Linked DNA regions of Homo sapiens. The protein of the gene in region 1 interacts with the protein of each later gene in a pairwise test. Each region holds a gene or a part of one and is shown in the gene's direction. Other genes may lie near its edges.

What was found.
Region 2: the proteins of HSD17B7 (region 1) and CA1 interact in a two-hybrid assay, tested with the Homo sapiens proteins (one large-scale study listed by BioGRID and IntAct).
Region 3: the proteins of HSD17B7 (region 1) and BRSK1 interact in a two-hybrid assay, tested with the Homo sapiens proteins (one large-scale study listed by BioGRID and IntAct).
Region 4: the proteins of HSD17B7 (region 1) and GPAT4 interact in a two-hybrid assay, tested with the Homo sapiens proteins (one large-scale study listed by BioGRID and IntAct).

What each region holds. Positions count from the first base shown.
Region 1 is NC_000001.11:162,792,773-162,798,661, forward strand, and holds part of HSD17B7 (3-keto-steroid reductase/17-beta-hydroxysteroid dehydrogenase 7), read left to right. Parts: coding exon 1-90; intron 91-3,812; coding exon 3,813-3,905; intron 3,906-5,029; coding exon 5,030-5,144; coding exon of another isoform or gene 5,145-5,165; exon of another isoform or gene 5,166-5,370; intron 5,371-5,889. UniProt on the Homo sapiens protein: Bifunctional enzyme involved in steroid-hormone metabolism and cholesterol biosynthesis. Catalyzes the NADP(H)-dependent reduction of estrogens and androgens and regulates the biological potency of these steroids.
Region 2 is NC_000008.11:85,374,603-85,380,931, reverse strand, and holds the start of CA1 (carbonic anhydrase 1), read left to right. Parts: upstream 1-2,818; 5' UTR 2,819-2,886; intron 2,887-6,329. UniProt on the Homo sapiens protein: Catalyzes the reversible hydration of carbon dioxide. Can hydrate cyanamide to urea.
Region 3 is NC_000019.10:55,309,220-55,314,141, forward strand, and holds the end of BRSK1 (serine/threonine-protein kinase BRSK1), read left to right. Parts: intron 1-224; exon of another isoform or gene 225-1,005; coding exon of another isoform or gene 1,006-1,076; intron 1,077-2,691; coding exon 2,692-2,849; 3' UTR 2,850-3,343; downstream 3,344-4,922. Other genes in the region: modulator of macroautophagy TMEM150B, read right to left, coding at 3,640-3,836. UniProt on the Homo sapiens protein: Serine/threonine-protein kinase that plays a key role in polarization of neurons and centrosome duplication. Phosphorylates CDC25B, CDC25C, MAPT/TAU, RIMS1, TUBG1, TUBG2 and WEE1.
Region 4 is NC_000008.11:41,583,421-41,589,309, forward strand, and holds part of GPAT4 (glycerol-3-phosphate acyltransferase 4 isoform 1 precursor), read left to right. Parts: intron 1-1,357; exon of another isoform or gene 1,358-1,497; intron 1,498-5,889. UniProt on the Homo sapiens protein: Converts glycerol-3-phosphate to 1-acyl-sn-glycerol-3-phosphate (lysophosphatidic acid or LPA) by incorporating an acyl moiety at the sn-1 position of the glycerol backbone. Active against both saturated and unsaturated long-chain fatty acyl-CoAs.

The sequences.
Region 1 (5,889 bases):
CTCTCACCCCACTGCTGAGGTCACCATTGTCCAGGTGGATGTCAGCAACCTGCAGTCGGTCTTCCGGGCCTCCAAGGAACTTAAGCAAAGGTATATCTCTTGCTGATGGATTTTTTTTCTCATGTGATTGTGCAGCATAACACTTAATAAAATAAGAGAGGAAAGAAAAACCTGAAAAGAAACAGGTGCGGTGTAAGCAGTTATGTTGAGGAAGTCTGTATAGGGTGACCCATTGTGTCTCAGTACCACGTTTTCTTTCTTTTTTTTTTTTTTTTTAAAGAGATGGAGTCTTGCTCTGTTGCCCAGGCTGGAGTGCAATGGCGTGATCTCGGCTCACTTCAACCTCCACCTCCTGGGTTCCAAGTGATTCTCCTGCCTCCACCTCCTGAGTAGCTGGGATTACAGACATGCGCCACCATGCCTGGTTAATTTTTGTATTTTTAGTAGAGACGGGGTTTTACCATGTTGGTCAGGCTGGTTTCGAACCCCTGACCTCGTGATCCACCCGCCTCGGCCTCCCAAAGTGCTGGGATTACAGGCGTGAGCCATTGCGCCTGGCCAGTACCACATTTTCAGTCTCAATCATGATCATAATTATTTCATGGAGACTAATTTATGAGTACATCCTGATGTGTGATCAGTTGGTACTGGGATTACAGGCGTGAGCCATTGCGCCCAGCCAGTACCACATTTTCAGTCTCAGTCATGATCATAATTATTTCATGGAGACTAAGTTATGAGTACATCCTGATATGTGATCGATCAGTTGGTGCTGGGATTACAGGTGTGAACCATTGCACTTGGCCAGTACCACATTTTCAATCTCAATCATGATCATAATTATTTCATGGAGACTAATTTGTAAGTACATCCTGATGTGTGATCAGTTGCACTGCCTTACGTTAAGGTAACTCCTTTGACATTTGAATTCATTTTTTACATCTTTCTTCACATAATGAATTCATTAAGTAGATAAGGCAAGTAGTGAGTGACATTTAACAAGTGAAGAAACTGAGACACAGAAATAAGGGTAATATGCCTGGGAAGGTCATCCAATCTTATATTAGTTGGGTGGGTCCAAGACCCCAGGGCTTCTCCCTGCTTCCTAAGGGGTATTTTTTTTCCCTAGGCCAGTAAAGATTTGTTCACACCTTCACAGTAATTGGCATGTAATAGACATTTGATCAATAGTTGGTATATGAAGGAATAGAGTCCTCAGATGTATAACTCCCCTGAAAGTGAACACAAAATTGCATGTAGGTGCACAATGCATTTTTCTGAGCAGAGAGGGCTTTTTATTTATTTATTTGTTTTTAAATTGTAAGAGGAATTTATGATGAAAAAAGTCCAAGAACCCTGCACTAGTCTATGCTGCCCTAGGGCTATCTGGAATAATTAATTTTCAAATATTGAGGCACTTAAGAGACAAAGAACTACCTTGTTTCCTTGGACAGTAGAATGAAATGGGTAGAAACAAGGAAGGCTTTCTTGATGAAGATGTTTGCTGAATAAAAATACTTCACATTTTATGTGAATTGATAATCATTTGCATTTGCCTGTTCCAAATGCACAAGTTACAAAGTGAAAGCTAGTTTTCTTCACTCCAGCTCTTCTCAGTGTGGCCTTAGTCCTTTGTAAATGTGGTTTCTCTCTCCAGTACTGCTGAGCTATTAGAGTTTTCTACCGCATCTTAAAGAAAAAAAAACAAAAAACCTGAGATTTTCTAGGTTCTGTTTTCACATAAATTTTGATATATTCCATATCCCCTACTCCTCCATAACTTAAGCATCTCCAGGGCTGTGAAACTGTATACTGAATGTCCTTATGGAGATAAAAACCATGAAGTTGAGAGAAGTTATGAGTTTTAAATCATGTTTACAGGCATTCTTTTCCCAAACTTTCTTAGCCAGCTGGCTTCTTACCTGCTTTGTTTAGATTTTGTTATATTTTCTTATTTGGAAGAAAAGAACCTTCATTTCCCAGTTAATAATATCCCATTCCGATGCAGTTTACTTTTGAGACCCAAAGTTTTAACATTTATAGTACTGACTATTCCCAAATGCCTTCAAAGGTTCAAGATATTCGGTACTTTATCGCGAGTTCAGTAATTTAGTATTTCGTAAGATATTTAGCAACTTAGCACAGATTCAAGGCAGTGAGGCTGTGGGGCAGAAGGGAGCACTTCAGGTGATAAGTGAGTTGTCCCAGGTACCTGTCATCAGCATTTTAGTGAAGTTTTGAGGTATTTAGTCCGCAAAACAGCCTTTTTTTTGAGATGGTTGGTGTCAATTCAAGTTTAGGAAATGAATGGTTATAGTGATATTCACAAGTTTGGAATATATGAAAGTGTCCAGATAGATTCTTACTTATGTCAAGAAACTACACCCAGTGGCTCAAATGGATCTCTTCAGTTCTAAGTCTGAAATAAACTAGAGCTAAAGAGAGCTTGAGAATCCCTTCTAATGGCTCAAGTAGCACCATCCCTGACACCTGGTCTTTCCATCTGTAGCATTCTCTTCTATTAGATAGTGCAGATGAAAACTAGTAAGAAATAGTGATGCTGTTTTATCCATATTAGAGCAATGTATCAATTATTTTATTGATGAGTGGTATGTCATTTTACTGAAGCCAGAGCTTAATTTGATGTCTTTACTAAACATTTCCTCTCCGTTCCTAGCCAAATATGTTAATATTCATAGATAAAAGTTGGCAAATAAGGTAATAGAACAAGCAACAATGGATGAACTCACACTATCTTTGTGGCACTTACATGATGAACTGATGGTAATAATATCAGCATTTTAAATGGTCAATTTAATAATTTGAGTCATTTGTCAATTATTTATAGGATGATCAAGAAATGGTTGTATGTGATCTGTGTTGAAGACCATGTATGTATTTCAGGGTCCTAAGTTTAGAAGCTATGACTCTTAATATCTTGGGTTATTCAGAGACAGTTTGGTACATAGAACTCTAGGAGATATTCTGAATATTTATGGTGTCTGTGAGTATCATGAGAGCAGGCTTTACCTGCCTTGAACCTAGTTCAAAATGAGTACATTTAAACCTATGTAAGTCTTAGATGAAGAGTCTTAGATGAAGACTTACATAGGTTTAAAACTGAAAATGCTTTTTCAACTCAGCATTTCATATCCCTTCCGTGACAAGTATTCAGGGGGGAGCCCAACAAGATTACCTTACCCCCATTTATCTTTTATAATCTCAGTGTATTCTTACGAACTTTCATCATTTTAGGATACATAGGACTTGTCCATGAACACTGAAAGGTTTCCACATGGATCTTCTGTTTTATTATATATTTTGGCATTCAGATTTCAGCATTAATAGATCAGGTCAGGTGAATATCAATAGTATATAAATTTTACTTGTCAACCAGAGGAGATGTGGATTTTTTTTTTAAAGCAAGACACTTTGTAAGACGAGGAGAGTGGGTTTAAGAGATAGAGGGTTGCTGCAATTCCTTATTGAGAGGACAGAGCTGGAAGGAATTATTGATCAGAGGTTTTACTTAAAGCCCACGATGACTCCACAGATTCTGTTTGAAGCCACTACCAAAGAAAGAATTCTCAAATGTTTACTGTAGCTAAAGAAAAACTGTTGAGAAAGAAATGCTGTAACTCTAATGTGCTATAAATTCTTCTGAACTTGCTGTGGCTAATATATTAATTTAAAAAGTATTTTTTGTCTTTCTTAGGCCTCCTTGATTCTAGTCACTCTAGAGATAGAATACACAATCTTGTCCTGATGTTTTTACTTGCAACTCACAATCTTGTTTGGTGGTTTACTTGCAGGTTTCAGAGATTAGACTGTATATATCTAAATGCTGGGATCATGCCTAATCCACAACTAAATATCAAAGCACTTTTCTTTGGCCTCTTTTCAAGGTAATTTTCGTTTTATGGATGAACTGATTGGAAGGAATGTGTTCATTTTTCTGCCTAGTTTTGATGGCATGTTAAGTTGGGGGGATGAAAGGTAAGGGGTTGTTGAAAAGGTTGAAGACAGAAAAAGGAGATGTCGCAACCATATCATGAAAGAAAAGCAATCCTCTTTTGTGGGGAGTGCTGAAAGTCCCGTTTTTTATGGTATTCTAAGTCTCCAGGACATTCTAAATGGTTTAGAAGGTCATTTTTTGGTCTGCCTGGATATGCCTATTAGCAAGAACATTTTGAAATTAGGCAGAGTTCTCAGAGAGTCTCCAATTTCCAGGAAAGTTACTTTGAACTGTTTCCCAGCTGTATGTCAGGTGCTCTGACCAGTAGGTTGGGGAAATGCAGACAACTAATGTTTCCTGGGAGATTCTCGTTACTCATTAGTGTAGTGGCTTTCAAAAATGTTGAAACACAACCAGGAGAATTCTTATTTATAGGAATAGATCTTACTTTGTGACCCAATACACTTATTCATAAATAGGCATTCTTACTATGTGCTGCTTACTATACCAATGCTTTTGCTTTACTTCTTTTCCATTAAAAGACAGACACACACACACACTCTCACACTCTCTCTGTCTCTCTCTCCCCGCATTGATTTTGACCTACTAAATTGACCTCCCAGCAGAACACTATATTAATACGTTTGAAGTATTCCCAGTTAAAAAAACAATCTGTTTAACTCTTTTTTTTGACAGTTAAACATACTTTGTGCACAGGAAAACTTTTTTTCCCTTTGGCATAGCTTATTATTCCTTTAGAACAGTTTACCTGTAACCTGATTGGGAAAGAGGTGAAGAGAATTTTAGCAGCAGGTTTTTGAGAGACTCAAGTTCCTATTGGTAGCGTGAGCTATAAGTATGTAAGTATTTCTGTGAATTAGTGGGGGGAAGGAGGGTCTTTGGCATTTCATTTAATACAATAACCCAGTCTGAGAAATAGGTATTTTTATTCCTGTCATTATAGAATCAAGGGAGGTGTAGTTTATGGGTCGGGGGGATGGGTTGGAAAGTGTTTTCAGTATTTCCAGTTAAAGAAGCTTTAAAAAGTCATGCAATTATCTTCTGCTGTTTCAGAAAAGTGATTCATATGTTCTCCACAGCTGAAGGCCTGCTGACCCAGGGTGATAAGATCACTGCTGATGGACTTCAGGAGGTGTTTGAGACCAATGTCTTTGGCCATTTTATCCTGGTAAAGAAGCTGTGGGCTTAATAAGCTAATATTTCGTGTGATAGTTTCTGTAAAGCTCTGGGCACAGGGCATTATTATAGTTGAGCAGCCAGTTAACTGATTTAATCTCATGTTTGAGTTTTCTTGATTGCATTTGCCTTGTTTATTGTGAGCATGGAATACTTCTGGAAGCTTTCCTAGTAGATTTTTCTTTAATAAATGTACTAATAGTTTTTGATTTACAGAATTACTGCAAAGATAGTACAGAGACTTTCTGTATGCCCTACACCCAGTTTCCCCATTATTAACATTTCGCATTGGTATGATGCATTTGTCAAAATAGATGAATCAATTCTGCTACATTATTATTAACTAAAGTACACACTTTATTCAGGTTCTGTTTTTGCCTAATGTCTTTTTTCAGTTCTAGGATCCCATTCAAGATACTACATTACATTTAGCAGTCATGTCTCCTTAGGCTCTTCTTGGTTGTGACAGCTTCTCAGACTTTCCTTGTTTTTGATGACCTTGACAGTTTTGAGGAGTACTGCTTAGGTGTTTTGTAGACTCTCTCAATCGGGATTTGTCTGATGTTTTTCTCATGGTGAGACTGAAGAATGTGGTTTTTGGGAGGAAGGCCACAGAGGTAAAGTGACATTCTCATGACATCATATCAAGGGTGTATGCTATCAGTATGACTTCTCAGTGTTGATATTAACCTTGATCACCTGGCTTGAGGTCATGTTTGTCAGGTTTTTCCATTGTT
Region 2 (6,329 bases), on another chromosome or scaffold:
CAGGAATGCACATCAAAACCACAATGAGATATGATCTCACACCTGTCAGAATGGTGATTATTAAAAAGTCAAGAAACAACAGATGCTGGCGAGGCTATGGAGAAATAGGAGTGCTTTTCCACTGTTGGTGAGAATGTAAATTAGTTCCACCATTGTGGAAGACATTGTAGCAATTCCTTAAAGACCTAGAACCAGAAACAGCATTTGACACAGCAATCTCATTACTGGGTATATACACCCAAAAGAATATAAATCATTCTATTATAAAGATACATGCTTATGTATGTTAATTGCAGCACTATTCACAATAACAAAGATGTGGAATCAACCCAAATGCCCATCAATGATAGACTGGATAAAGAAAATGTGGTACATATACACCATGGAATACTACGCCACCATAAAAAGGAACAAGATCCTGTCCTTTGTAGGGACATTTAGCTGCCTTTAATTGAGACTTTGATTGTACCATTCAGATTCTGGCACTTTGGTCCAATTATAGGAGTATTCTGGATGCCAGCATCTTTGCTAGCTGTGCACCCACAAAGCCTTTGACTTAAAAGACATTTGTGAATCAAGCTCCCAGGACCCAACATTGTATTCAAATTCTACAAATGACTCAGCCCCATTATAACACCACAGAGTCACAAAAATACAGCCCACATCAACCCTAGTGGGTATCCATGTGGGAAGGATACCCTAGTCCGACACTGCCCTAGCTCAAGACCATGCCATTAAAGATGACATGCCCCCTGCCTCCCAACCAACTATGGGCAGTGCCAACTACACTAGCACATGGAATGTCTTGCCATTCATAGGAGACCAGAGGCTCTTGGTTTTCCAGTAGCTGGTTACACTGCTGACTTCTGTTTTAAAAAAGCAAGACCCACAACACTGGAGTAACTTTCCAGACTTTACAGACACCTATAAAACTCGAAGTTCTGCTCTCTGTGATTGTAATTCCACTCTATACCTGGCTTAGCCCTTATGAGACCAAGTCCAATACCTCCCTAATGCTTCTAAGATTCAGGTTCCTGCTAATCCCACCCACTTCTCCTGCCTAAAGGGTAACCTGACTGAAGTATTCCACCCTGTGTGCTCTCCTAGGAGTAAAAGGAGCATCTGCTGGTCTCCGACTGTCAAACCATTTATTCCCTTCCATCCTCCTCGCCTTCCCTTTCTCATTGTCAGTATCCCTACTCCCACCCCTATCTTTTCCGTCCTAACAGCATCTTCTCCTCTTGCCCTCTAAAAGACTACGTAAGTAAAATTCAAACCCACTGCCCCAGCTTCTCTGATATTTATACAGACATCCAAAATACAAACACATTTGACTGAAGTAGGCTCTTCTGCACTGACTATCCATAACTCATCACCCTGCTTCCACATATCCCACATCACACATTTACCCAACTGATAATTGCCCCAGAGATGAAAAATACTGAGAAATGAAAACCACTTCCAAACGGCCTTTTCTTCTGTATTGGGGTGCCCCCTCATGGCAAGTGGCAACTGCACTCGTATTTCCTCAATACATACCACAGATGGGCTACCCAATGAACAACTGCATATTCTCACCATATGCCCAACAAAAGCCACTGTCTTCCTCCAGTCCCATTCTTTAGTAATTTCCCTTTACCTAAATCAAGGTACAATTTTCCAGTCTAATGGTAATGCCACAAAACTATATTGTGTCCCAACCAACAAGGGTGTTTATCCCCTCTCCTTTGCCCTTCCATTACTCTGAAACTGGAAGCCACGAGATGCATTCTGGCCTCTCTTGGCATTCCTATTTATATAAATGTTAATTATTCTTTCCCTACCCAGCCAAATGTCATTGATGTGCCACATTTGTACCTATAATACTGGGACTCACCACTGCTCTGGGACTTGCTGCGATGGCCACAAGGACCATTGCTTTAGCCCAACAGTCAAAAATAATTGATGCTACCCTACAAATGTCCAAAACTCTAGTATATCATATTTCTAAGTTACAGCAAATATTAGTCCTGCTAAACCAGGGAGCTTTGGCAAAAATGTTTTTTGACAGTAAATTTGTCCTTGATTATATATTAACTAGTCAAAGAGGTGTTTGTAACATTATTAGAGCTTCTTGTTGTAGGTGGGTTAACACCACCAATCAAGAGGTCATTCTAACAGAAAGCCTGGATCAGAAAACCATCACCCTAAAAAAACATGCCTTACATATTTAACACACTCTGAAATCCAGTCAAAATATGACTAAAGGCCCTTGCCATGACTGATGTATTCTCCTGGCCAACGCCAAACAAATGGGAGCCTGGTTACGAGTCAGCCTTCAGGGACTTGTCACATTTCTACTTGGTTTCTTCCTTGTTATTGTCATAATAAAATGTTTTCTATGCTGTTTAGTGCAACTTAGGCCCTATTCTGTAGAAGTCTCCTCTACTATTCAGGCCACTCAAACACCCCAAATAATTGAGTTCAAAATCGACATCAAGATATAAAGGAATCAGTGACTAAATATATTTCATATATGGTATTTTTATTGATTATTGTGCTGTCTTGACCTAGTATGGAGGCCTTGGCTAGAGGCTGGTCAGTTTCCTCTCTTGAGCAGCTGATTAAATCCACACCCCAACCACTTCCCTTATCAGGTTCTCACACTCTGGGGCCACTATGTACCCACTCTAATCACCACAGGGCCAGACATCAGACAATTAAGGACAGCGCCCATGCCCCAAAGCCCGCCAAAATTATGCAAATTATTCAAAATTATTCAACCTAGCTAACCCCACCCTTTTTGCTGTACATAAGCTGCCCATTCCCCCTCCAGCCTGTGGTACCCAGTCCTCAGGTGCAACCCCCTGCGTGGTCCTCTGTGGCAGCCTTCTCTCATTCAGAGCTGTAAGTAACAAAGACTTCTGCCTTTCATCTAGCTGAGCATTGAAGTGTTTTATCCGACTGCCAAAAGAATCTTTAAATCTTGTAAAATACAGTCCTACCTACATCTTAATTACTATTCAATGAATGAAAGCTGCAAAGCTTAAAAAACCTTTATAGTTTTTCTAAACCTTTTATATTTATCAAGCAGATCTCTGTAAATCTGTAAATCTGAAAAGGATAATATAAATTACCTTTTTTTTTTTTGAGACAGAGTCTCACTTGGCAGCCTAGGCTGGAGTGCAGTGGCACCATCTCTGCTAACTGCAACCTCTGCCTCCCAGGTTCAAGTGATTCTCCTGCCTCAGCCTCCCGAGTAGCTGGGATTACAGGCACATGCCACCACACCTGGCTAATTACTGTATTTTTAGTAGAGGGGATTTCACCATGTTTGCAAGGCTGGTCTCGAACTACTGACCTCAGGTGATCTGCCCTCCTCAGCCTCCCAAAGTGCTGGGACTAGAGGCGTGAGCCACTGTGCCCAGCCAATATAAATTACCATTTAAAATTATTCCATGACTAATGTTCAATTTGACGTTAATTCCCCTAAACAAATAATGCAATTGATAGACTTGGTTAATTAAGTTCCTTTAAATATTATATATTATATCAATTACAAATTTAGTCTACCTGAATCTCTCAAGCATTTCAAATGCCTGACACATTAGTATCTTTTATACATCTTGCAAGTTTATAAAAGGAGGGAGGGGGCTCTAATAATTAAAGCAATTCCAGTAAAAGTAATAAACCAAATTTATGCAGTAGTAAGTTATGTTCTCTTAAACATTCAAACACTGTGTATAGACTGAAGAAAATGCTCTTGTACTTTAAAATTGAAATTATATGGTTCATATATCTGATTTTCTAATATATCAGGTTATATTAAATGCTTCAAGTAACTTAACAAACAATCTTTCATAGGTTATCTCAAGGATTAAATAATTAAATTTCTAAAGTTAATACAAATGTGTTAATATTGTGGATTTGACTAACTTCAACATTCTTATAGTTATTTCTCTCTTCTCCCAGTATTGTAAATCCACTTATGCAAATAAAGAGAATAGATAGATGTATGATCTGATTGGGCTGAGGATACTGTATCAGAGAATCAAGGCCAGGGTTGAAGTGTCAGTTAAAGAATTTGAGAGAGGGTCAGGGACCTAATTAGGTACCACACATGCCCAGGGTGCCTCTACACGACCCGAAAGTCAATCTGCTGGGCATCTCCTTGAGGTAACAGAGCTTTCCAAATTCACACTGTTTCATGCAGTCTAGTATATCATGTGTACCCTTACCTAGTTTTATTTATTTATTTATTTATTTATTTATTTATTTATTTATTTATTTATTTTTGAGACAATTTCTCTGTCACCAGGCTGGAGTGCAGTGGTGTGATCTCAGCTCACTGTAACCTCTGCCTCCTGGGTTCAAGCAATTCTCTTGCCTCAGTCTCCGGAGTACCTGGGACTACAGGCATGTGCCACCACGCCCGTCTAATTTTTGTATTTTTAGTAGAGACAGGGTTTCACCATGTTGGCCAGGATTGTCTCAATCTCTTGACCTCTGATGATCCGCCTACCTCGGCCTCCCAAAGTGCTGGGATTATAGGTGTGAGGCACCGTGCCCGGCCCCCTTACCCAATTTTTAAAGTTACCTCTTTTATAACTTTTTTGTTTTTTTGAGACAGAATCTCACTCTGTCACCCAGGCTGGAGTGTAGTGGCATGATCTCTGCTCACTGCAACCTCTGCCTCCCGGTTCAAGCAATTCTCGTGTCTCAGCCTCCCGAGTAGCTGGGATTACAAGTATGCGCTACCACACCCGGCCAATTTTTGTATTTTTAGTAGAGATGGGGTTTCGCCATGTTGGCCAGGCTGGTCCTGAACTCCTAACCTCAAGCGATCCACCAGCTTGGACCTTCCAAAGTACTGGGATTAAAGGCATGAGCCACCATGCCCAGCTTCTTTTATAACTTATAACTGTGTAATTTGATAGTTGAAATTCCCTCTATAGGATATTATTCACTACTCGACTGAATTCAATCTCTTTATTGCCTGATTGGAGTCAACTTGCTTTTTACATGTTTTATATCCAGTTCAATATCAAGAATCCTTTTGTCATTTTATTGACCATTCCCTACGTGATTAACACTATCTACTGAATACTGTATCTCAGAATATTACCTACATTTGCATCAAGCTCATGATCTATAGCTCACCTACATCCACCATTCTATTTTTGAAATTTGGGATAGCATGTGCCAGGATACAGTTGTTCTGCCTGAGTCTTCACTGCACCTCGAGTTATTTTGAGGTTCATCCATCTTATCTGAACTTTCTCCGTGCTCTGGATTTTATTCCTCTCCAAGAGACACAAACTCATTTAGAGCATGTAGATCTTCCCTTGGGATGTTTCTGCCTATTTTATTCCTTGTTTCTATCATGCCAACATTTGTTCTAATCTTTCTATTTGTTCTAATCTTTTTTTTTTTTCAAAAGAAAAGGAAAAAAACAGGTATTTTATGGCACCACTGGTCAGTGTAGGGCGGGTGGGTGGCACATGGCATTAGATGTGCTAGTTGGGCAGAGCTGTGCTGTTAATTTTCTGAAAGTGGTAACAAAATACATAAAATAAAACAGTGCAATGCCAGGACAGGCCAGCATGCGATAGGTGAGTTCTTCCCTCCGAAGCCTTCTTTCCAGGCTGTTTCATGTGTCTTTCTTTAGTGTGTCCTTCCTGTCTAATTAGGTTTCTCTCATTGCCCTTGTCCTAATGTTTTACAATTATCTAAGGTGGAATAGCACAGTGGAGAGAAGCAAAAATGTTGGAGTGAGACAGACTTAGGCAGAGGTGGCAATATTGTAAAAATAATGATGCTTAAGCTGTAAGACCATTCATTGCTTGATTTACTTCCAAGATCCCAGAAGGGCACAAGAAATGTGTTCACACAATCATATGTTTTATATAAAATTTGCAAAAGATATTTAACCACAATCAGTCAACCCCATTATCATTTTACTCTGACTGTACGGCATCATATTTCCTGTATCAGGTGGTATTGGAGGGGCTGTGGGCATTTTTGAGACCCAAATGGGGAAAGTTGAGTTGAGAATAATTTTAGTTTGGCTTTAGTGGGTCATATTTATGTGGGTATCAGTCATTTCTGTATATTGATAATTTATTGCTAGCCATTCAGGGTAGCATCCACTATGCCAAAACAAATATGCAGGGCCAGAAGTCATATTGAAAAGTGAAAGTGTGCTTCCTAATGGCTCCCAGGTTCAGAAATTTGTAGGTTATTGAAGAGAAACAGATGGTGAAATGCACAGAGACAGAGCTAATCGAGGGAAAATAATTTCAATCATCCAGTGTGTAAAGCTGCAGGCAGAGAATTTGGTTTTAGAATTT
Region 3 (4,922 bases), on another chromosome or scaffold:
ACCTCACCCTGGGGCTAGGGCCTAATGGTCCCTAGCAACCAGAATTCTAAGCTGAGTTCATGGGAATGTGCAAGATCTTGCTCTGGGGAATCCGGCCTTCCCGGGCTCCCAGTCCTGGTCATCAAAGACTCAAATTCTCTAGCAATCAGGAGAGCAGAGGGTTTGTTGCAAAGGTGTCTTAGTTCGTTCAGGCTACTATAAGAAAATACCATACACTGGGCAACTTACAAATAACAGAAATTTATTGCTGACAATTCTGGAGGCTGGGAAGTCCAAGATCAAGCTGCCAGCAGCGTTGGTGCCTGGTGAGAGCTGCTTCCTGGGTCACAGACAGCACGTTGGTGCTGTGTCTTCACATGGCAGAAGGGGCAAGGGAACTCTCTGGGGCCTCTTTCCTAAGGACACTAATCCCATTCATGAAGGCCCCACCCTCATGACCTCATCACCTCCTAACATAACCTCCTAATACCATCACCTTGGGATTGGGTTTCAGCACATGAATTTGGGAGGATGCAGTGTTCAGTAGAGAGCATAAGGGGCACTCGCCCAAGCAACCAGAGGTAGCCAGAATTCTCAAGGGAAGAGAGCGCCTGCCCTGGAAATCAGCCCTCATTCCTGAGACACGGGGTCACAGGGGACACAGTGAAACAGGGTACTGGGCCCCATTGCAGGGCACGTGGACAGCCGTCTGCTCTGAGGGGAGTCAGGCAGCATCAGCCTCACAGGACCCATGCCCCTTCCTGGACCCCTGGACCCCGTTGAAAGGAAACGGCCCAGCGTTGAGGCCAGGAGCCAGGGCAGCTTTGGCCTTGTCACCAGAAACTCTGAGTCCCAGGGTCAGGTCTTTTGCTCTGGAGCCGTGGTTCTCAACTAGGGGAGCTGGTTTCACCCCGTGTTTGTTTTCTATGGCCGCCGTCAACAAATGACACAGCCTTGGTGGCTGAAACAACACAAGTGATTTTCGTACAGTCCTGGAGGTCAGAAGTCCCACATGGTCTCTGCAGGCTAACAGGGTGCCTGGAGGGCTGCACCTGGAGGCTCTCTGGCAGAGACTGTTTCCTTGTGTGTTCCAGTTCCTAGGCGCTCTGGTTAAGGCCCGTTCCTCCATCTTCAAAGCCAGTGACGCCATATATCCCTCTGACTGACCTTAGCTGGGAAAAGGTGACTCAGTGGGACCTGCACAGATACTCCAAGATAATCCCCCAACTCGTGGTCCCTCACCTTCCCCACAGCACAGGATCTCTTCTGCTGCATCAAGAAACATAGTCACAAGTTCTCGGTATTTGCATGTGGACATCTTTGGAGGGGGCCGTTATTCAGCCTAGCCCAACCCCCTAGGGACATTTAGTAATGTCTGGAGACATTTTTCCTCCCCTCAACTGGGGAAAACAGGGGGATGCCAATGGCCTCTTGTAGGTGGAGGCCAGGGATGCTGTAAAACACCCTACAATTCACAGAACAGCCCCCCACGACAGCTGGGTCCCAAATGGCAGTCGTGCTGAGGTGCAGAAACCCTCTTTTCTCATGGTTGCTAGGGGCAACCGGAAAGCAAATTAGGTCCACTGGACCCCGTTGCCGAGGAAAGCTGGCCTCAGCAACCAGGGGTCTCAAAACGGGCACACCCTGGAAGATGTAGGACTAACAGGCACCCTGGGGGGCTCAGCCACCATCTCATAAAGGAGAATGGGGTGGGGGGTGCAGGCCTCCGAGTCACCGTGGTTGCTATGACAAGCCCCCCAGTTTTTGTTTTTGTTTTTTTGAGACAGAATCTCCCTCTGTCGCTCAGGCTGGAGTGCAGTGGCGCGATCTCAGCTCACTGCAACTTCCACCTCCCGGGTTTCAAATGATTCTCCCGCCTCAGCCTGTCGAGTAGCTGGGATTACAGGTGCGTGCCACCACACCCGGCTAATTTTTGTATTTTTAGTAGAGACGGGGTTTCACCATGTTGGCCAGGCTGGTCTCAAACTCCTGACCTCAAGTGATCTGCCTGCCTCAGCCTCCCAAAATGCTGGGATTACAGGCATGAGCCACTGCGCCCGGCCCACTCAGTTTCTCTTAAAAGAAAAACGAGGTCTCCGCCACGGGACCTCAGGTAACATCCTAGGCCCCATGGAAATTGCTGGAGACCACCCAGCAACCAGTGTTTCCACCTCAGTCCCCAAGAGGAGGTGGCCTCAGGACCCAGGAGACAGTGACCTGAGTCAGGCTGGCCCAGCATGAGGGGCCTGAGACCCCCCCGACTCCACCAGTAGGCTCCCTTGAGCCCAGTTCCATGGAACATTTCTCCCTAACAACCAGGGTAGGAGAGAGTCGGGGGGCCCCTCTTGCTGTGAACGTTGAGCACCGTCCTGGCAGGCTGTTTCCTAGCGAACAGTATCATAACCAGAATCTGAGAGTCTCCTAAAGTCAGGCCCGGCCCAGGCCCCCTTGGACTAACCTGGCCCCAGGGTTGCAGGGGGCATAGGGTGCAGCCCCCGTCCTAGGGGAGTCAGGCCTTGCCACTTGGGGTGTGTCCTCCGAGTAACCAATTCAAGGCCAGGTGCTGGACGGACTGGGCCTTATCAGGGATTGGAGCTAGAGCCTCGGGGTTACTGAGACCGACTGATGAGGAGACTCTGCCCCCATCCCCTGGTAATGGGAACCCCAACCCTGGGCTGCGGAACCCACGAAAAACCTCTTCCTCCCTTGCAGACGAGAAGAACGGGGCCCAGACCCGGCCTGCTGGTGCCCCACCCCGAAGCCTGCAGCCCCCACCCGGCCGCCCAGACCCAGAGCTGAGCAGCTCTCCCCGCCGAGGCCCCCCCAAGGACAAGAAGCTCCTGGCCACCAACGGGACCCCTCTGCCCTGACCCCACGGGGCCGGGGAGGGAGGGGACCCCCCTCCACCCCCCTTCCGTGCCCCCCAACTGTGAATCTGTAAATAAGGCCCAAGGAACATGTCGGGAGGGGGGTGGACACAAAAACCGGCCTTGCCCTGCAGGGATGGGGCTCCACAGGCCGTGCCCAACTGGGGGTGGTTCTAGGGGAACAGGGGGCGGGGGAGCTGTTTCTATTTTATTTATTGATTAATTTATTATTTTATTTATTGATCAATCTCTCTGCGGGGTGGGGTGGGGGAGGGACGGGAGCTGGTTGGGGTGGCTTAGCAGATCCGGACAGGGCCCTCTGTCCCTGTGTCGTCCCCAACCCCCTCTTCCCGGGCCCCTCCTCCCCTGGTCCTCCCCCCACGACCTTCTGTACGGATTTGCTCTCCGGAAGGAATTCTGGTTTCGCGTGATCCTGCCTGCGTCCGTGTCTCTGATTCCGCCGGCGGCAAAAAAAAAAAAAAAAAAAAAAAAAAAAAGATAATAATAATAAATAGCCTTGATCAGGGACAGCTGGCTGGCCTTGGCCTCTCGATTCCTGGGTGCCCAGTTGCAGGGGCAGGGCCCGAAGGCGGGGACGGGGATGCTGGCTGCCACCAGCTGTTCAGAGGCCCTCCGCGCCGGCACACAGGTCCTCCGGCTCCAGGTCAGTCAGCGGCAGCCCCAGCTGGTTGGAGAGATCTCCAGTGGCTCATCTTGCTGGGTGCGGGGCACTGGGATTGGCCCCATCTTTCCTGCTTCACTGGTGAGGGCAAGGCCCGGGTCAGGGTGCCTGCTACAGCTGGACCGGCAGGGAGATGGGGGAGGCCGGCGGGGGGCTGAGGCTGGGCCACGGCTGAACACACAGGGTGCAGCTCTCCAGGGCGGAGAAGTCAACGGCTAAGAGACCGAAGAGCGCGAACAGCAGCATGGCCACGACCCACTCGCAGGCCGCAGAGACGCTACGCAGCGAGCAGGCGTGGAGGACGATCACTGCCCCAGGGTCAAGGGCCACACTGCTACCGTGACAGACGCGGAGCCCGGCCTGGTCTCTGTGCCGCCTCGCGCTGGGCGGAGGCCGTCTCTGGGTGTCCCCATCCTCAGCTCTCCCCTTCCCCCGTAGCTCCTCACAGACGGGGCCTCGCCTTGGTCTCCGATGCTCTCCAGCCGGTCTCCATCTCAAGCTGCTTGCACATGCTTTCCTTTGCGTGCACCCCCGTTACTATTGCAATCCTAATATCCTGAAATGTTTCTGTCTCCCTTCCCTGACCCAGGGAAGGGCCTGGTTGCCTCCCTACTTGTCCAGGACATCCAGCTGCCATTGCTCCTGCCTGTAAACATGCATGGTTTCCTAAATACGCCTCCCTCCCTGCCGCCAGCCTCGGACTGTGTTTTGCAACTTTCTCCTGAACATCCACCCCGCTACCCATGGCCTACAGGCCCTTCCTGCTCACTCCCAGAGCCTAATCTCTTCCCTGTAAAATCTGTTTCTCTGAGTGTCCCCTCCTCCACGACAACTCCACCATCCACTCATGTGCCCCAGCAGACACTCCCCCGGCCCTCTCTTCATCCTTCTTGGCCAGCTGGTCACCCCAAGTCTTGTCCTATCTGCCTTACCCATCTCTCTCCAGCCCTCTCCTCATGTCTTGTGCCTTTCTCTCCTGGTCTGTCCCGTCCCTCCTCTGGTTCTCGCACCCTGCTAGCTCCTTAAGACCTTTTTCTGCTCTGCCAGCCCCTGCAGACTCCAGGCCTAGTAGAGACAGCATTTGTTTTCTGGAACTTCTCTCACTGGAGCTGCTCACCACTTCACCCCTCCCAGACAGCTTATTCCATTCATTCAGGGATTTCTAAGGGGGCTGAGAAGTGGTGGCTCACGCCTACAATCCCAGCACTTTGGGAGGCCAAGGTGGGAGGATTGCCTGAGGCTAGGAGTTCGAGACCAGTCTGGGCAACAGAGCGAGACCTGGTCTTTTTTTTGAAACAGAGTCTCACTCTGTGTCCCAGGCTGGAATGCAGTGGCGTGATCTCGGCTCACTGCAACCTCTGCCTCCCAGGTTCAAGCGATTCTTGTGCCTCAGC
Region 4 (5,889 bases), on another chromosome or scaffold:
ATTGACTTTGATTTGAAAGTCAATTTAAATTTTTTTAAAAAAATTGTATAAAGTAGAAACAGGTGAAAATAATTTTAACAATATATTTTATTTAACCTAGTTTATCCAGAATATTACTTTGAAACATAATCAATATAAAAATTATTAATGGGATATTTTACATGCATTTTTTTCATGCTAAGTCATTGAACTCCAGTGTGCATTTTACATTCACAACACATTTTAAGTGCTCCAAGGTCACACGTGGTTAGTGGCTGCTCTGTTGGACTGCAGAGAATCACTGTCAGTGGAACATAAAGATGAAGGAATGTTTTATTTTGCTTAGTAATGTTCAGGTCTGAGGTTAGAGTTTGTGGTTGTGGTCATTGGTTTTTTCTTTCATGTTTTAGTGATTTTCTTTGCACAATTAGAAGTATTTTGAATTTGCAGAGAGATGAACAAAAAAGTCTGCTGTCACGAATTTGTGCGCTTGTGATGAAAAGGTTTCATTTTTTAAGACAGGGTCTTGCTCTGTTGCTCAGGCTGGAGTGCAGTGGCACTGTCATGGCTCACTGCAGCCTCAGCCGACTGGACTCAGGTGATCCTCCCACCTAAGCCTCCCAAATAGCTGGGATTACAGGAATGCACCACCACGCCCAGCTAATTTGTGTATTTTTAGTAGAAATGGGGTCTCTCCTTGTTGTCCAGGCTGTTGTTGAACTCCTGTCCTCAAGTGATCCGCCCACCTCGGCCTCCCAGAATGCTGAAATTACAGGTGTGAGCCACTGCGCCTGGCCAGTGATGTGTGTAAATTTAAAAGACTGTATTGGTGAAGATGTGGAACAAGTGAGACTTCCCTACGCTGCTAGTGGGAATACAAAATGGTACAACCCATTTTGGAATTTGTCATTCCACTCCTAGGTATTTACCCAAGAGAAATGAAGTATATGTCCATACAAAGACTTGTAGATAGCAGTTTTATTTGTAATAGCCTCAAACTGGAACAACCTTAGTGTCCATCAGTAGGGGAATGGATGAAGAAACGGGTATATCCATATACTGGAATACAGCTCAGCAATCAAGAGGAATAAACTGTTGACACATGCAGCAACATGGATGGTTCTCAGTATAATTATGCTGAGTGAAGTAAATTGGATAAAAAGATTTTTTGAACAAGAAAAAGGCCAGGAAGTTGCTTCTAATTACATATGCAGTACTCAGATTTCAAGAACTGGTATTGAAATTGAGCCATCAGAGCAGTGTTCAGGTCGAATAATGAATTGTCTTGGGTCTTAAAGCTCCAGCAAATCAAATTGTCATCATCAAAATAGCCTCTTTTTTTTGGTTTTGTTTTCTGTTTTTTGTTTTGCCAGCTTCAAGAGATGGTTCCGTTGCTTTGGGGTGAACTTGGTACCAGTGCCGTGTTACTTATCCAGTTCTAACTCAAGAAAGTTCTGGAGGGCATAATGATCTTAGATAAGACCAAGGCCCCGAACCTGACCATGTTCTGTCTTCTCTGTGAGTTGAATCATCCTTTGGCCAGTTGGATCCTGGCTTTGTCTTGGGTAATTTATTTTATCCAGGATTGATGCCAGCTATGTGTGTTCTGGGTTTTTAGCACTTCAGGTTCATGTCAACTGAGTCGCTCTGAGAGCTGCCCTGTTTGGAAACATGCAGTTTCCCCACTAAGCAACAGCTTCCTATTCAAGCAAATTTCTTACACTCTACCAGTCCCGATACACTCGACGTTAAATTCAGCGTAGCACACATTTCCTCATGCCTGTGTGTGCGTGTTTGTTTACATTACAGTTGGGGCATTTGGTGGGCCTATGTATGTTCTGACAGTAAACTAGGAGAAATGGATGCTTTTTTCTGAATTGTAATCCACCCTAAAGCAAGTGAGGAGTCAGCCTGGGAAGCAAGAAGTGCACTCGACTGGACATCAGATGGGCGTGTTAGTCCTGCCTCTGTTACCAGCCATTCCGTAACTTGTCCCCATCATCAAACCCTTCCGAGGCTCGGTTATTTGAGCCATAAAATGAAGACATTGGGCTAGAATTCTGAAAGATTAACTACTAAAGTTGTGGTTTGTCATCATTTTATTATTATTGCCTCCAGCTTTATGGTGATGATTAGTAGTAGAAGCTTCTATTTATAGAGGATTTTGTGCCAAGCACTACACTGATAGCTTGATAGGCATCATGTTCAGTCTTGACAACAATACCACAGGATATGTATTATTCCCAATTTACAGATGAGAAAACTGAAGCATGGAATGTGACTTTTTTGAGGTCAGACAGCCAGAAGGTAGGGGAGGCTGGTTTTGAATGTAGCTTGTCTGATTCCCTGTATGTTTGGCCATCATGCTTTACTGCTTCCCTGACATTCTGCAATTTTAAATAAAGACGTAAGGACAAAAAACTTGTTTCAGGAAGGATTTTTAAAAGACATCCAGTCTAATCACCATAATGTATCTGCCACTCTGCAGAATGCAGTTGTAGGTGAAGGTCTCCCTATGCAGCCTATTCTTTTTGAACAACTTAATCTTAGATTCTTTTAAAAATAGCTTTATTGAGATACAATTCACCTAATGAAAGTATGTTCACAGATGTGTATAGTCATCAACAGAGTCAGTTTTAGAACATTTTTGTCACCTCAGAAAGAAACGTTTTAGCTATCACTCTTGTATCTCCCCACTCTCGCCAGCTCTAAAGTAACCAACAATCTACTTTCTGTCTGTGTAGATTTGCCTATTTTGTATAAGTGGAATCAATATGTGGTCTTTTCAATGGGTTTCATTCACTTAGTATGATGTTTTGAAGATTCATCCATGTTATAGCGTGTATCATTTCTTCATTTTTATGGCCAAAGGTTCCATTGTATGGATACACCACATTTTGTTTATCCAGTCATCAGTTGATGGACATTTTGGTTGTTTCCGTCTTTTGGCTGTTCTGAATAATGCCATTGTAAGCATTCATGTGCAATTTTTTTGGTGTAGACAGTTTGTCTTTCTCTTGGGTATGTACTTAGGAGTAGAATTGCGAGGTACATGGTAACTTTGTTTAACCATTCTCCGAGCTGCACTGTCTTACATTCCCACCACCAAAGTGTGAGGGTTGGATTCTTAGTATTGAGCTAGAATTTGCACCCCATACCTGCCAACCATAGCACCAGTTCCCTTGCTTCATGTGTCCCAAGCAAATCCGCTTTTTCTAGGTGACAGCCAGCCCGGTCTGACCTGAGTGCTCTCCAGTACTGAAGGGCTTCCACCAGCTTTCATGCCCTGGGATGTCGTTCTAGAGCCTCACCACCTCTCTTATGAATGTGATCCCCCTCCTTTTTTTAGAGAACTAGATGCCTTTTACGTATGGATAATTTGTGCTCAGAGATGGTTGTCTTCTCAGTTTCAGTTGTCCTTTCTCAGTTAACTGGTAAGAACCCTTAACCCAGTAGTCTCAACTGGCTCCACATCAGAATCGCTCGAGTGTGTTAAGAACAAATCCAGATTGTACCTGCAGAGATTCTAATTTATTTCATCTGGGCTGAGGCCCAGAGATGCAAATAAGCATCCTGGGTGGAGAACCAGTGCAGCCTTTAGTGGCCAGGGGATGGTTCTGGCTGGGTCTCTGAGGGCCCACGTGGCTCATGCCCCTGCCATCTGTGCATGGATACCAACTGTCCTGATTCAGAATTACTGTGAGAGTCTCAGTTTTTACTAATGCATTTACACAGAGTGCCATTTTGAAGCCTTAAGCATTTATGTTCCTGTTTTCTGGAGAGTCTCATTTGCCCCCAGTATGCTCTGCAGACACTGGCTGTGGCCATGTTTGCCTCCCTGTCAGGCCATGTGAACTTTCTGAATGAGAAAGCATGCTCCAGCCATTTCAGAGGCATATAAACACCTTTAGGCAAAAGTGGTAGTTGAAAACCTCATTAGTATAATGTCATTACTTCTTGGGAAATACATTCAAATTCCCCTTCTCCTTCCTAGTGACAGGGGCTTAGATGAATAGTATTCCATTATATCCTCTATTGGGAGACGTTGATGTTTGTTTTGATATTACAGACAATGCCGCAGTCAGTATCCCAGCACATATTATCACTTTGCTCATGCTTTAAAATACAGGGTTTATACACTTCTGCACTACTGACATTTGGGGCTGGACAGTTCCTCATTGTGTGGGAGCTGTCCTGTGCATTGTAAGATGTGCAGCATCATCTCTGCCCTGCGCACTGCACTAGATGCCAGTAGTAGCACTCCCATCCCAAGTCGTGACAGCCAAAAATCCCTGTAGATATTGCCAGATGCTCCCCAAGGGGGTAAAAAAATCACCCTTGGTTGGGAACCACTGGTCCGATTTATCCTTAGGATACATTTCTAGAAGTGGAATTGCTGGATCTAAGGTTACATACATTTAAAATTTTGATGACAGTCGCTAAATTGTTCTTTGTAGAGGTTGAACCCTTTTTACACTCCAACCAGCAGTATTTGAGGATGTTTTTCCATTCTCACCAGTGCAGTGGTTTATCAGAATTTCTTTGCCATCTCACTGTAGTTTCAATTCGAATTTCTCCATTTTACGACTAACCTTTTTATTGAACACTTCCTGCTTGCTAGGCAAGTTGTGTTTTTTGGCCTGTGGATTTTGTGTCATACGTTATAATGCTTTCCTTTCTAAGCCTTTTTGAAGTTTGGTACCTAGGACTGAAGACTGAGTTTCTTCTGATTCTAATGAAATGATAATATATACCATTCATTGAGATCTAACATGTGACAGGCATTGTGCTTGGTGTGCTCTAAAAATACGTGCATTCTTTTGTGATCTAAGCATGTATTAATAAAGTGGCCTTTCTTTTACCTTTTGAGTTGGCACAGGGCCTCTGTCTGCACATATTCTAGCAGTTATGGTCCCTGAGTTGGGATGTGTCACAGAGAGCCGACTGAAAAGTATTTGATTCTGCATTTAGGAGTGATAATAGTCCCAGTCCAATACCTTGTGATTGGGAGAGAATTGGTATAGATGCCTTGATTTAAATTAAGTTCTGTTCTGTTCTGTTCTTTTTTCTTTTCCTTTTCCTTTTCCCTTTCCTTTTCTCTCTTCTCTCTTTTCTCTTCTTTTCTTTTCCTTTTCCTTTCCTTCTGTTTTGTTTTCTTTTCCAAGAGTGTATTTTCCTTGTCAACAGTCATCATAGTTTGAAATTACAACTTTTTGTGTGCTTGTTTCCGGATGGGCATATCTTTTCACCGCTGAACAACAGCTAACACCTGATGTACTGTCTGGCACACACTGTGTGCCCAGTGAGTATTTGTTGAATGAATGAACTAGTCACTCCAAGAACTGAGGCCATTAGGGAGCCTAAAGGCCCAGATTTGCCATTCCATGGGTTGAAGAGTTAGGTTAGCTTAGTGATGGGCTCTGTTGCCTTCCTGGAATGGAGGCAGCTTCCTTCCTAAAAGACTCAGAACTAGCTGATTCTCTGGAATGTTTGGCCTGTGGGGGAACGTTGGCCCTGATGATTCTGGGTGAGTTTGGTTGGAACCCATCTGTGGACGTTGAGGGAATAAGTGAATATTCCTCTGAATGAATGGCTTCCCCAGCTCACATTCTTAAGGGGTCATGCTTATATTTACTTGAGGCAAAGTGATAGCCTCTCGTAAAAGAACGGTTATCTAGAAATTGTGGTTTGATTGAGTTCTGATGTGAACAGTTTTGATATTTCTAGACATCAAAGTCTGTATTAAGGGGACCTTAAGCCACCAGTTACCTCTGGCTTTAATGATTTTTCAGTTTCCAAACACTACCGATTTGATAAACTCAGTTGGCTTGCTCTTTCCTCTACTTCTAAGAATTTGTGTGAGTGTTGTTTAGTGTTGGCCAAATAACTTGTTAGGCCAGTTTGGTGTTC